2 linked regions of the Homo sapiens genome follow. The protein of the gene in region 1 interacts with the protein of each later gene in a pairwise test. Each region holds a gene or a part of one and is shown in the gene's direction. Other genes may lie near its edges.

What was found. Proteins that work in one complex are often made in the same cells at the same time.
Region 2: the proteins of BTN3A1 (region 1) and PPL interact in binary tests that used the Homo sapiens proteins (3 or more experiments, as listed by UniProt).

The regions. Positions count from the first base shown.
Region 1 is NC_000006.12:26,405,272-26,412,297, forward strand, and holds part of BTN3A1 (butyrophilin subfamily 3 member A1 isoform a precursor), read left to right. Parts: exon of another isoform or gene 1-100; 5' UTR 101-292; coding exon 293-377; intron 378-637; coding exon 638-985; intron 986-991; exon of another isoform or gene 992-2,399; coding exon 2,400-2,681; exon of another isoform or gene 2,682-3,451; coding exon of another isoform or gene 3,452-3,590; intron 3,591-4,261; coding exon 4,262-4,462; intron 4,463-4,622; coding exon 4,623-4,643; intron 4,644-4,734; coding exon 4,735-4,761; intron 4,762-5,837; coding exon 5,838-5,864; intron 5,865-6,283; coding exon 6,284-6,310; intron 6,311-7,026. UniProt on the Homo sapiens protein: Plays a role in T-cell activation and in the adaptive immune response. Regulates the proliferation of activated T-cells. Regulates the release of cytokines and IFNG by activated T-cells.
Region 2 is NC_000016.10:4,892,141-4,899,166, reverse strand, and holds part of PPL (periplakin), read left to right. Parts: intron 1-46; coding exon 47-154; intron 155-1,396; coding exon 1,397-1,492; intron 1,493-2,586; exon of another isoform or gene 2,587-3,450; coding exon 3,451-3,573; intron 3,574-3,732; exon of another isoform or gene 3,733-3,759; coding exon 3,760-3,906; intron 3,907-4,500; coding exon of another isoform or gene 4,501-4,548; coding exon 4,549-4,700; intron 4,701-5,528; coding exon 5,529-5,626; intron 5,627-5,796; coding exon 5,797-5,954; intron 5,955-6,953; coding exon 6,954-7,026. UniProt on the Homo sapiens protein: Component of the cornified envelope of keratinocytes. May link the cornified envelope to desmosomes and intermediate filaments. May act as a localization signal in PKB/AKT-mediated signaling.

The DNA.
Region 1 (7,026 bases):
GTTTGGGGAAGTCATAGGATTCTGAATATTGTTAAACAGTACAGTGAGGATTTTCTGATCGAATAACAGATGTGCATTTCACATAGACATGTTTTTACAGGTGATTTTCAATGTTGGGACTCAAAGGTGAAGACACTGAAGGACAGAATTTTTGGCAGAGGAAAGATCTTCTTCGGTCACCATACTTGAGTTAGCTCTAGGGAAGTGGAGGTTTCCATTTGGAATTCTATAGCTTCTTCCAGGTCATAGTGTCTGCCCCCCACCTTCCAGTATCTCCTGATATGCAGCATGAATGAAAATGGCAAGTTTCCTGGCCTTCCTTCTGCTCAACTTTCGTGTCTGCCTCCTTTTGCTTCAGCTGCTCATGCCTCACTCAGGTAGGGAACAATTCCACGCTTGTTTCTGAAGCAGACAATTACCTAATTATGTCCTCATAGGACTTTTGACTCCTTCCCAAACCTGAAGTCCATCCCGATCTGAAGGTTCACCCGTCACTAAGAGACAAATGGTGCTTCTGTTAAGATCAGTTTCCCCCACCAGTTTCTTTGTATCTCGCCTTCCCTGTCTGAGAAGCACCCTTCCTCTCATGACCCCAACTCCAAAACCCTCTGACAGATCCTCCCCCTTGTGCCTACAGCTCAGTTTTCTGTGCTTGGACCCTCTGGGCCCATCCTGGCCATGGTGGGTGAAGACGCTGATCTGCCCTGTCACCTGTTCCCGACCATGAGTGCAGAGACCATGGAGCTGAAGTGGGTGAGTTCCAGCCTAAGGCAGGTGGTGAACGTGTATGCAGATGGAAAGGAAGTGGAAGACAGGCAGAGTGCACCGTATCGAGGGAGAACTTCGATTCTGCGGGATGGCATCACTGCAGGGAAGGCTGCTCTCCGAATACACAACGTCACAGCCTCTGACAGTGGAAAGTACTTGTGTTATTTCCAAGATGGTGACTTCTATGAAAAAGCCCTGGTGGAGCTGAAGGTTGCAGGTGAGCCTCCAGGTTTTGTTCTGAGAACATTTCTCTGTAGGATCTAGAGCAGATGCAGAGTCCCTCTTGCAAAAGCACTGCAGACACTCCTGGCTGCTCACTAGCAATTGCCTGCACTGCCTCCCAACTTAGCTTCTCTGAGGCCCTTGAGTAAGACACAGGTTTTCCTTTAGGAAGAATTCCTGCTGTACCCTACATGCTCAAGTAAAGAACTCCTTTCCTCTGGCCACCAGAGATATAAGGGAAGTGAAGGACAAGGGATAGAAAGCATAAGAAATCATCTCTTCAGTGACTAGTACACAGTCATTCGTGTTTAGTTCTGTACTGGATGGCTTCTGTGGCTCCACTAGGTACATGCTATTGTGGGCCCTAGAAGACTGGGCTATCTGGACTGTATCTGCTGCCAATGTTCTTGAGCCAATGACCCTAGAATACACCTGTAGTCATGGGAGCTGTGTTTCTTACTTGTTGCAGTGAGGAAGAACACATATCATGGGGAGCTGTGGTGGAGTCTCAGTAAGAAGCTGTTAGAGCAGACTTAGTATATAATTTGGGCTTGTGTTAGGGGATTTGGGAGGAGGGTTTATAGACTTTGGCCTCTGCTCTGGATGAGACACTGCTAGGAAGGTGTGGGCAGGTTAATTCTATGAGTGAGAACCTTAATCAATCTTATCTAGGAAGAAAGAGACCAGGGTGAGACTAAAGCTGTAATTGATGAAGGGACAGCAATCCCTCATTGCTGATGGGGGTTGTTTGGTCACTGCTGTGGTTTGGACAATGTTCATGTTTTTCTCTGTGCTCACACATGATGTGGGGTGGTCTTGTTTTTCCCATGATCCATCATAGTCACAAAGTGCCATCATCTGATGCTGGTGTTCTGTGAAATTGCTTTTGTTCAACAGGAGGACACTGAGTCCTGTTGCTGCTTCCAGATAAAGGGACTGCTCTTTTCTTTCTTAGTGCAATGCTTTTCCCTGTGGCTTCTGTTTAAGGGTTTGGTCAGCAGGGATCTGTAGCAGACGATGAAGGGAGGGAGAGAAAAGAGAGATCTGGGTGCTTAGTCCCTGGCTTCCTTCCTGCAAGTTACCCTCAGGCTGGCTGCATTGCCTTGCTGAAGGTCATTGCCCCTCTCAAGAAAGTCCTTAATGCATAAATCTCTTCTTTTGTGTCTTCAAAACAGCTCCCTCTCCTCCTCCCTCTGGTAACTGTGGTGGGTGGGAATAGCCCCACTGTTACTGACCCTGGGATACTGCACTCATTCATGTAGCTTTCTCCTCACTAGGACCACACTTTTGTAAGCAGCTCTAAAATGAAATTGTTCTTGAATTATGGAATGTGAGTGTGCCATGATTCCTTTTGAGACCCTCTCTGATACAGGCCTCTCAAGAATTTAGGCTAATTCATCCTTCCACAGCACTGGGTTCTGATCTTCACGTTGATGTGAAGGGTTACAAGGATGGAGGGATCCATCTGGAGTGCAGGTCCACTGGCTGGTACCCCCAACCCCAAATACAGTGGAGCAACAACAAGGGAGAGAACATCCCGACTGTGGAAGCACCTGTGGTTGCAGACGGAGTGGGCCTGTATGCAGTAGCAGCATCTGTGATCATGAGAGGCAGCTCTGGGGAGGGTGTATCCTGTACCATCAGAAGTTCCCTCCTCGGCCTGGAAAAGACAGCCAGCATTTCCATCGCAGGTCAGTACCTGCTTGGCCTCAGGTTTTCTGAGCTGGGCTGTGGCAGTTGAATGAAGGGGGAGGTGTTAGTGTCTGCAGTCAACCTGGGTCTCTGCACTGAATATAAGGCCCAAAGCACAGACCTGGAGGCTCCTCCTTGCACCGGGGGAGCTTCTCTTCTCCATAAAGCTGTTCATGACGCAAACATTTACTGAACATTTCCTGTCTGCCAGAAGTATAACAGTAATTGGAATTAGGGGATAATTGTTAAGATAAGCTGCGTATGTAAAGTCAAATGACAAAAGGGGAAAGCATATATATATATATACAAACTCATAGAGAAAGAGCCAATCTCCTTGAGACAGAAGATTTTAAAAACTGAGTAAAAAATTTTAACAAAGGTCATAAATTATTTAATTTACAGAAAAGGAAATAACTCACAAAAGAGTGTTCGTTCTCATTCATTAGAGAAACATACTGAATCATTTTTCACTTATGGTATTGGCAAAAATCAAAACAAACATCTGTTGGTTGATAACACATGGTTATGGCAGGAATGTAGGAAGGCTGTGACTCCTAGGCATCTGCTGGGATGACTTGTATTTTTGGTGTGCATTAGCACAACCTCTGTTGGGGGCTATATAACAATATCTATCCAAACTACATCTTTAGTGATCCAAAATTCCGCTTCTGGGAATTTATTTGGTAGATAAGCTTGCATTTGTATGAGATGATCCATGTAAAAAGTTATTTTTTATAGCACTGATTATGACTGCACAAGGTTGGAAACTATGCAGATGTTCACTGCTGGAGAACTTTCATGCAATGGATACCACTCAACTGTGAAAGAAAAAAGAGATAATTCTCTCTATAGTGAAGTGGAAAAACCTCCAAGATTAACTTTGCACAGAAAGAGCAAAATGCAGAGTGGTGTGTATGGAATGCTATCTTTAGTGCAAATAAGAGGAAAAACAAGAATATATTTTTATTTACATTTTTTTAAGTTAACAAGTAATGTCATAACACTCACTAGGTGTCAGGCACTTTATAAGTATTAATTTAATCCTTCTAACTTCAGGAGAAGGGCAGTAGGAACAGAGAGGTTAAGTAATTAGTCTAAAGTCACACTGCAAGTCACCTAAAGGAGCCAGCATTGACACCCAGGGCCTCCAGCTCCAAAGTTCCTGTTCTTAAGCATCATATTAAGCAGACTAATTTGAAGTTAAGAAAGGGAGGGTGGGAGGGAGGACTGGGTGGATGGGAGACTTACGTGACTTTTTATACATGTATTTTAGAACCATGTACATGTGTTACCTATTAAAAAGTTGAATTAGAAAAAAATATGTTTGATATCCTCAAGTCACTCACTTTCCACATGAGAGGCAGACGTCTCAAGAGAAGTAATAGTAGCAGCCTCTAGTGGGGGTTTATCAAAGTCTTACCCACTGTCCTCTGAGATTTTAGCATGAGAAAGATTATTTAACCTCATGAGATAGATTCCGTGCCCTGTGACCTGGGGTGAGCAGCTAACACTTGGGGCGCTGCAGTCTGGGGAGGCTGAGTGCACCGGCCCCCATGACCCACAGCCGTTGCCTTCACAGACCCCTTCTTCAGGAGCGCCCAGAGGTGGATCGCCGCCCTGGCAGGGACCCTGCCTGTCTTGCTGCTGCTTCTTGGGGGAGCCGGTTACTTCCTGTGGCAACAGCAGGAGGAAAAAAAGACTCAGTTCAGAAAGAAAAAGAGAGAGCAAGAGTTGAGAGAAATGGCATGGAGCACAATGAAGCAAGAACAAAGCACAAGAGGTAGCTGACCTTGGGAGTTTATCTGAGCCCCTGGCTTACGGGCCAAAGCCCAAAGACCTCACGCCCATCCCCACCGCAGAGCTCAGTTGCTTTTAAGGTTAATTTTTTAGAAAACCCCCTCACCTGTAACAGTTCATTATTATTTCTGCTTATTTTCCAGTGAAGCTCCTGGAGGAACTCAGTAAGTTCCCATTCCCCCAGAGACCCAGGCATGTCTTCCTGTCCCTGCTTTATGCGCCTTGATGCATCTTCCCCTGTTCCTTCCGTTGCAGGATGGAGAAGTATCCAGTATGCATCTCGTAAGTGCCTCTGACATTTTCTCTGAATTTGAATCTATAACTGTCTGTGCTTGAATAGTTTCCACTCTTAACTCTTTCCCCAAGGTTGGGAAGTGGTCTTAGATCCCTTTGACTAAGGAAAGAAAATAGATGTGCCAATTCCTAGTCATTGCCAAAAAGAAAAAAAAAAAAAGGAAAGAGAAGAAAGGAAAAAAGAAAGAGTGTGGCTGATTGGAGTAACACCCAGGAGGAGTGTTTCTTTCTCCCTCTCTTTCTCTTTCTCAGCTGGTCTCGAAGAAAAGATGCCTTCAATTTATCTCTACCAGGGGCCACAGACTCTATAGCCCTGCAAAGCACTGAGGAATATCCAGGGGCACATTTGTAAAGGAAGGGGGAAGAGGTAGATGAAGTGCATTCTCTATGGCAGGAACTTCACTAGTCATTTTACATAATCTATAGGCTCCAGAGAAGAAAAAGAATAAAAGATAATAAAGAACAAGAAAATCTGAAAAGAGAGAGGGAGAAAAGTGTGTCTAATAAACAAAAGTGGCCTGAACAGTCGCTCAGTTGGTACCAATTTATTCTAACTGACTTCAAACACTAGTCCCTGAAATTGCTCATTAAATTTCCCAAATTCTTTTCAGAGTAAGGTACGAAATTAGATTGATATAGAAGGATCTTGCAAACACACACACACACATACACACATTTAAATATATATATACACATATATACATATATACACATATATATGTGCATATATATGTATATATATATGTGTATATATATATGTGCATATAGACATGGAGACACCTATGCCCAGGTACAGGTATATAGATACATTCCAAATAGATCAGCTGAACACCATCAGGAAGGAACTCTCGCAATGTCTGCCATGTCACTAGCATTCGACTGATGTTCCTGGATTTGATACTAAGAACAACACAATAGAAAGAATTGAACCTGCAGAGGAGGAAGATACAGGTGGTAAAAAAAAAAAAAAAAAAAAAAAGATTAGATGGATGTAAAGTTAAGGGAATGGGGCCAAATCAAAAATGGCAAGTTCAGGTGACATCTCTATCTTTTTTTCATTGTAGGGGGAGAGAGACATTCAGCCTATAATGGTGAGTGAACCTGATGCTCTCTGAGTTTGCTGGGACACGTGCCATGAACATTTCAACCTTTTCTCTGCTGTGACCCATTGATGTTCTCATTTGCATGAATCAGATTTAACCCAAAGACTCAATTTGTGTGTTGTGGGGGGTTGATTTCTGCTTTTCTGGAGAATCAGAGAGACTCCTGACCCTGCACACCCCCTTGCAAAGCCTGGCCTTGCAGCCTGTACCCTTCATTGCAGAGGGAACAGAGCTCACCATTTTTGAGAAGGTACCACCCCTGATCCATCAGAGCTGTAGAAGAGGGAGGCTGGACCCTGGAAGAGACTCTGAAGAAAAGGAGAGAAAACATGTAGTGAGGGGAGAGTGCAGTGGGGAAAAGTACAAGAATACTGACCTTTTCCTTATCTGTGTCTCCTTCCTTTCAGAATGGAAAAAGGCCCTCTTCAAGCCTGGTGAGTAAATCACTGTGTGTTCCCTGGACCAACAACCTGAGGGACTATATTCCTTTTTCCTTTTTACTTCTCCAACTGTTGTGATTTGGGGAAGAAAAGCTCCCATGACTAGGAGAATTTGGGGTAGGCAACATTAAATTCCAATCTGAAAAGTGGGCCCATCTCCAAGACCCTTTCTGCTGAGAGCCCAGGGAACCAGGGCGAATAGATCTCTTGCACTTCCTCAGACCTTCCTGGGAAGGAAGACATATAAAGGGTGGATCTGAGGGGAAGGAGACACACACTGAGTAATACTGCAGGGAGAGTGAGGATGGAAATGCCAAGGAAAGGAGGCGATGCCTGCCCAAAGAACTTAGTCCTTCCCAGACTTCTCATGCCACCTACTGTCAGTGCCTTCTCAAAAAAACTTAATGCTTCTGAGCTTTGGCCTCCACATATTTAGGTGATGATTTCAATCTGTGTTTGTGGGGGTTGAGGTGAAGACTGAAGGAATAATAAATATCCATTGGTCAAAAACCTTAAGAAGGAGATGATGAGTTCAAACTGCGTGGTTGAAGGTTTGCAGAAAGGAGGGTTAAGGGAAAGCAACAAGGAAAAGTGCAGTGCCCCCATGGTTCCCAACAGTGGGGAGCTGTCTCCACTCCTACACTGGGACGGCTAGGGAGGGGAGGCAGTTACTGGAACCCAGAATAAGAAGTAGCTCAAAGAGAGGGCTC
Region 2 (7,026 bases), on another chromosome or scaffold:
ACCGCCAGGCTGGGCACTGAGGCCCCTCCACTGCCCCCCACTGCAGAATTTCATCAACCGGAACCTGGAGGCCAAAGAGGAGAGAATCAACAAACTGCACAGCGAGGGCGACCAGCTGCTGGCGGCCGAGCACCCCGGGAGGAACTCCATTGAGGTTCATGCACCCCGAGACCAGACACCTCCCCCAGGGTGGCTTCTGGTTGGCCGCTGCCTGTGGGCCGCCTGGAGCTCGGGCAGACCCCGGAGCTGGGGGTCCTGCAAGCTGCATCTTGTGTCTGTCTGTCTCTTTCTTGCTGTGTCTGACTCTGCCTCCTCCATTTATCCTGATCCGTTGACACTTCTGCCCTCAGCCCCTGGACTTCTGAAGCCCCTGTGGGGTCTGTATTAGTTTCCTAGAGTTGCTGCAACAAGTTAAAACAAACTTAGTGGCTTTAAACAACAGAAATTCATTCTCTCAGAGGTCTGTGGGCTGTAAGTCTGAAATCAAGGTGTCTTAGGGCCTCATTCCCTCTGGAAGCTCCAGGACATGTGCCTTCCTTGCTCTTCCGGCTTCTGGGGGTTGCCAACAGCCCTTGGCTTGTGGCTGCATCATTCCAGTCCCTTCCTCCGTCTTCACATGGCCTTCTCTCCCCATGTCTCTCTGTATCCTCTCTTCTTATAAGGATATCAGTCAGTGGATTTAGGGCTCACCCTAATTTCAGGATCCTTAACTAATGACATCTGCAAAGATCTTATTCCCAAATAAGGTCGCATTCTTCCCAACCCCCACAATGCCACCAACCCCGCCTGAGATGGAGTTTCGCTGTTGTTGCCCAGGCTGGAGTGCGATGGTGTAATCTTGGCTCACTGCAACCTCCACCTCCCGGGTTCAAGCAATTCTCCTGCCTCAGCCTCCCAAGTAGCTGGGACTACAGGCGCACACCATCATGCCCAGCTAATTTTTGTATTTTTAGTAGAGACAGGGTCTCATCATGTGGGCCAGGCTAGTCTCAAACTCCTGACCTCAGGTGATCCACCCGCCTCGGCCTCCCAAAGTGCTGCGATTACAGGTGTGAGCCACCATGCCTGGCCAGGGTCATGGATTTGGTGGGACACTGTTCGGTCCATGACAGTGCCTTTGTACAGATTTGCCGAAGGCACCACAGCCCCCACTTGCCCTTTGTGCACTGCACAGCCTGGGCATCCGTATGTGGCATCCCTGTTTGGCTCCTTGACGTGACCCCTCTCTCCTCCTCCCACTCCTGAGCAGAAGCTGGCTACCCCTGTGGTAGCCACACCCAGACAGATGCCAGATGCCTCCCTCCCCCGCCATGCCCCAGCCCAATATCCCAGCAGTCCCTCCCTTGGTGTCTGCAGTACCTGCCCAGTGGTGACCGGCCCCTTCTCTTCCTGGCAGGCGCACATGGAGGCTGTGCACGCAGACTGGAAGGAGTACCTGAACCTGCTCATCTGCGAGGAGAGCCACCTCAAGTACATGGAGGACTACCACCAGGTACTTACCTTTCCTGGGAGTCCCCCCAGCACCGGGGGTGCTACTCTCTGAGAGCGCTCAGTGCCTACCTGGCTCATGTGTGGCCTCGTGCTCCTTGGTCCAGGAGCCTTGCGGGGCAGCCATCCCAGGCCCCCAGCACCCATGCTTCTGATGGCGTGTGCAGACATGTCCCAAGCTTGCCGGCCCCTGTCCAACTTCCCTGGGGACCAGGGCCAGAGTCTGATTCCCCAGGTCACATGGGGCCCAGGGTGAGTGTGTAGGGTTTTAATTTTGGTAAAATCTATAATATACATGCAGATACATAAAACAAAATTTGCCTTTTTTTTTTTTTTTTTTTTTTTTGAGAGAGTCTTGCCCTGTCACCCAGGCTGGAGTGCAGTCGTGCCATCTCGGCTCACTACAACCTCCACCTCCTGGGTTCAAGTGATTCTCCTGCCTCAGCCTCCTGAACAGCTGGGATTACAAGTGCCCACCACCACACCCAGCTAATTTTTGTATTTTCAGTAAAGATGGGGTTTCGCCATGTTGGTCAGGCTGGTCTCGAACTCCTGACCTCAGGTGATCCTCCCGCCTCGGCCTCCTAAAGTGTTGGGATTACAGGTGTGAGCCACCACACCCGGCCAGTTTGCATTTTTAAGTGTACAATTCAGTGGCATTCATTGCATTCGCAATGTTATGCAACCATCACCACCATCTACTTGCAAAACTTTCCATCACCCCAAACAGAAACCCTATACCCTGGCTGGGCACGGTAGCTCATGTCTGTAATTCCAGCACTCTGGGAAGCCGAGGCGACTGGATCACCTGAGGTCAGGAGTTCAAGACCAGCCTGGCCAACATGATGAAACCCCATCTCTACTAAAATACAAAAGTTAGCCAGGTGTGGTGGCCCATATCTGTAGTCCCAGATGGGAGGCTGAGGCAGGAGAACTGCTTGAACCCAGGAGGCAGAGGTTGCAGTGAGCTGAGATCGCGCCATTGCACTCCAGCCTGGGCGACAGAGTGAGTCTCCGCCTCAAAAAAAAAAAAAAAAAACAACCCCGTACTCATTAGGCAGTAAGTTTTCCATTCCCACTCCCCCAGCCCCAGGTCACCTTTGGTCTTCTTGCTGTCTCTATGGACTTGCCTGTTCCAGAAGTGTCACACCTAGAACGAATATGAAGAATCAGTGGGATCATGCAATCTCTGCCCTTTTGTGTCTGGCTTCTCTCACTGAGCATCATGTTTTCCGGGTTCATCCGTGTTGTAGCATTTTCAGTGCTTCACCCCTTTTTATGGCTGAATCATATCCTATTGTATGGCTAGACCACTGTGTTTATCCACTCATCTGTGGCTGGACACTTGTCTGTTTCCAGAGGAATGAGAGTTCTTAAGAAGCTGCGGGTAATTCTTAGGATTGAGGTGTCTGGGGAAAGCTGGATGTGGGCGACGCCGTGTCACTCCTCATTCCCTGTCTGAGCCGCACAGTGGGGGCTTCAGGTCCTGTTTATGGCTGCAGCCCAGGTGCTCAGCCCAGGGGATAGCTGACAGTGAACCAAGAGTTGATAGACTGAAGAATGGGCAAGAGAATTTTCGAGAACAAAAAGGGGAGGCTATTATCAAAACCTAGAAAGAAGCTATAGTATTAAGTCTGGATGTTCCTAGTACAGAGAGAGGAACTGAATCAAAGACACCTCAAGACTTACTGATACATCCAAGAAAACATGTCACAGAGGTGGCATCTCATGGATGGGTGGGAAGGGACCTGGCTTTTCCCAGTGAGGCCCCTAAGGAGCCAGCTCAGGGAGGGTGGGGCTGTCTCCACGCAGAGGAGCCTCAGGCTCAGCACAGGGTCCCATGCTGGACTCCAGGTGAACCGGAGGCCCAGCCCCGCCTGAGGGATGAGCTTGAAGCCTCCGACAGAAGCCCAGGTGCTTCTAGTGGTTTCCTGGCTGTAACAGAGCCACCTTCTCCCCTAGTTTCACGAAGACGTGAAGGACGCTCAGGAGCTGCTGCGCAAGGTGGACTCGGACCTGAACCAGAAGTATGGCCCTGACTTCAAGGACCGGTACCAGATTGAGCTGCTGCTGCGGGAGCTGGATGTGAGCGATGGCCCAGGACCCCTGCTGGCCCGGGGGGCGGGGGACCCCTCTACACCATGCCTGCCCTCAGCCCTGTACAGGCCCCTCCACAGCACCCCACCTGCTGAATCCAGCCCCTGCTCTGCGTCCTCCCACCAGGGGGAAGGCTGTTGGTCTCACCTGGGCCCCTGACCCCGTTCTCTCCAGGACCAGGAGAAGGTGCTGGACAAGTATGAGGACGTGGTGCAGGGGCTGCAGAAGCGAGGCCAGCAGGTGGTGCCCCTCAAGTACCGCCGGGAGACTCCGCTCAAGCCCATCCCCGTGGAGGCACTCTGTGACTTTGAGGGGGAGCAGGTGCGTGGGGCCAGCTCCTCTGTTCACATCACTACAAAGTTTTTGGGGTAACATGGTTGGATCCCGGGCCTCAGGCGCCGTTCTCAGGAGCCTGTGCCTGTCTCCGTGGTTGGTGTCACTCTGCCAACCCTTCCCCTGGTGCAGGCCAACTGGCACCCCTATGCCGCCCCCACCTCGGCTGCCCTGGCCTTGTGTTCCACCAGCTTAGCAACCCCAGTCCCTCCTCAGAAGTCCCAGGCCAGGTTCTCATTGGCTCACTGTGAGTCACGTGTCCATCCTACACCAATCACTGTGGCCAGGGAATGCCAGGGTCCACCCTATACCAATGACTGTGGCTGGCGAATGCCAGTCATTGGCCAGGTCCAAGTCACATGTCCATCTGGAGCTTGGGAATGGAGAAGGAGAGACCACAGGGACTGGGAATTGGGAGGGAAGGTTCCCCAAAGGGAAATGGAGGTGGGTTGCTGGGCCGGCAGCCTCAACACATGTGCTTCTCCTGCATGCCCCTCCCCACTCTACGGGGAGGGTCCAAGTGATGAGCCGGGGCTCCCCAGGTCCAAGAGTCGGGGGCTGAGATGGCAACCGGGCTCCCAGGCCCTCAGGCCCTGCCGGGATCCTGACTGTCCAGCCTGCCCCCGCCAGGGCCTGATCTCGCGGGGCTACAGCTACACCCTGCAGAAGAACAACGGGGAGAGCTGGGAGCTCATGGACAGCGCTGGGAACAAGCTGATTGCTCCGGCCGTGTGTTTTGTGATCCCCCCCACAGACCCTGAGGCCCTGGCTCTGGCTGACAGGTACAAGGGCAAAGGCGGGAGTCTGCATGGACCAGTCCCACCCCCAGGGCTTCTCAGGCCCCATTCATAGCCCCGGGGATTTGGACTCAGCCTGTGGGGAGCGCGGGGTCGCTGACACTCTCCATCTGCACCCCCTTGGAAGTTCATGCAGGAGAGGGGCAGATTGTGGGCCAGCTGACTTGCTAAACATGAATGTCTAGCTCTGGGCTTCGTCCTGGCCCCCTCACGAGTTTCTAAGCAGTTTCTAAGGGCCCCTGACTCCCGCACGCACTGCTCCCTGTACTTGCAGACCCCAGCCCCTTGGCTGGAGGACTCAGCTGGGATAAGGGCTGCCTCCTCTTTGCTCCCAGGCACCTTCTTCCACTGCACGCACCGCTTTTTATTAAGTGACTAGCGTATGCGTCAGTCTCATTGGGCCTGGGCTCCTTGAATTTCCTCTCTCCAGGGCCTAGTTAAGTACCTGGTACAAAGTAGGTGCCCAGGAACTCCTTGCTGAATGAGTGGATCATTCAAGGAATGCCTTCATTTATTAAGTATTTATTGAGCACCTACTGTGTATGCTCCCTCAGAAGTAACATCTTGGTGGTGATTATTGGACAGACAATTTTAGGTAGTGAGACTTCCTACGAAAGAGGAGGGAAGGAGGGAGAAGAGCTCTGAGCCCAGGAGCACAGAAAGGCCAGTGCCACAGTGAGCACTTGCTGTCCGCATCTAAGGAGCTGTCAGGCTCCTCTGGGGTGTCTGCCCAGCCAGAGTCCGCAGTCCCGCCTCTGTGGGTGCAGGGGGTGGTGGGCTGCCCAGGTTCCCAGCTCATTTCTGTCCTCACAGCCTGGGCAGCCAGTACCGGAGCGTGCGGCAGAAGGCAGCTGGGAGCAAACGCACGCTGCAGCAGCGGTATGAGGTGCTGAAGACCGAGAATCCCGGAGGTGGGTGCCAGGGCCACTCGCCTGAGGCTCTGGGGGTACCGGGGAGGAGGGGCTGGACCAGGGTCTGTGCTGTGGATGAGACGGCGGGGGGCTGGCTGCCTAGGTCCATCCCTGGGCCTCACACCCCTGGCCCGTTGTCACACCTGCCTGTGTCCTCCCTCCCTCCACAGATGCCTCTGACCTACAGGGGCGGCAGCTGCTGGCTGGCTTGGACAAGGTGGCCAGCGACCTGGACCGGCAGGAGAAGGCCATCACAGGGATCCTGCGGCCACCACTGGAGCAAGGCCGGGCTGTGCAGGACAGTGCCGAGCGGGCCAAGGACCTCAAGGTACCTGCGGGTCAGGAGCACAGGTGGGGCCGGGGGAGCCCTGCACTGGCCCCCTGGGGCCCCTATTTGAGGTCTTTTCCCCATGGAGTCTTGGGATATTCACTGCAGCTGTCTGTCAGGGACAGCCTGCTGCATGTAAAAGGGTCCCAAGTCATGGAGGTGGCAGGGCTGCTGTCATTACCTCCCCAGGAGAAAGAGCTGGCAGGACTTGCATTGTTCCTGCACGGCTTGTCGATCTGACGCCTGGCATGGCACATGGGCTGTGGAATTCCGCAGGACTGGGTCACCGGCTGGCTTGACTGCAAACACGTTAGCGTTTGTATTTATAAACTCCAGGCCTCAGTGTCTTCAGTAGGATGGGTTGGCCCTGCTCACAGGGCAGTGGCGAGGACAGGGTGAGCTGATGCCAGGGGGGACGTGGAGGGGCCACCTCCCCCCACCTCCTTTCCTATACAAAGTCTCCCACATCCTCAAGGCAGCCCTCTGAGGCAGTGAGTAGCACTCCAATTTTACAGAAGAGGATCTGGGATTGGAGAAGTGCCATAGCCCCTGATGGGGCCTCAGAGTGAGAGCCAAGTCAGGGCGAGAGGATGCCGGTCTCGGGTGTAGCCTGACCCCACAAGTCCCTTCCTAAGCTGCTGGGAGTCGTCACACCCCCACCCGTGACTGGGTGGAGTCGTAGTACTCACCTCCCGGGGTTGCCGCAAAGATTAAACAGAAGCGTCCGCGTGCAGTGCTGAGGACAGCACAGGCCCGGCAGCTGCCTGGGTGCTTCTGGTGTCACTAGTCCATTCCACCTCAGCGGTTCCCTGGGATGCTCGTGAAAAATACAGCCCTCAGGCTGGGGTCCAGATGCCGGGTCAGAGCCCCAGAATGTGCCAGGCCTCTCCAGCTGCTTCCACTGTGCCTGATGTGGGAATCTGTGCTCACCCTGGGCACATCCTCAGGGGAAGGGGCTGCCTGGCTGTGTCCAAAACTGAGGGGCCCTGGTTCCCACAGAACATCACCAACGAGCTACTGCGGATTGAACCTGAGAAGACGCGGAGCACGGCTGAGGGCGAAGCCTTCATCC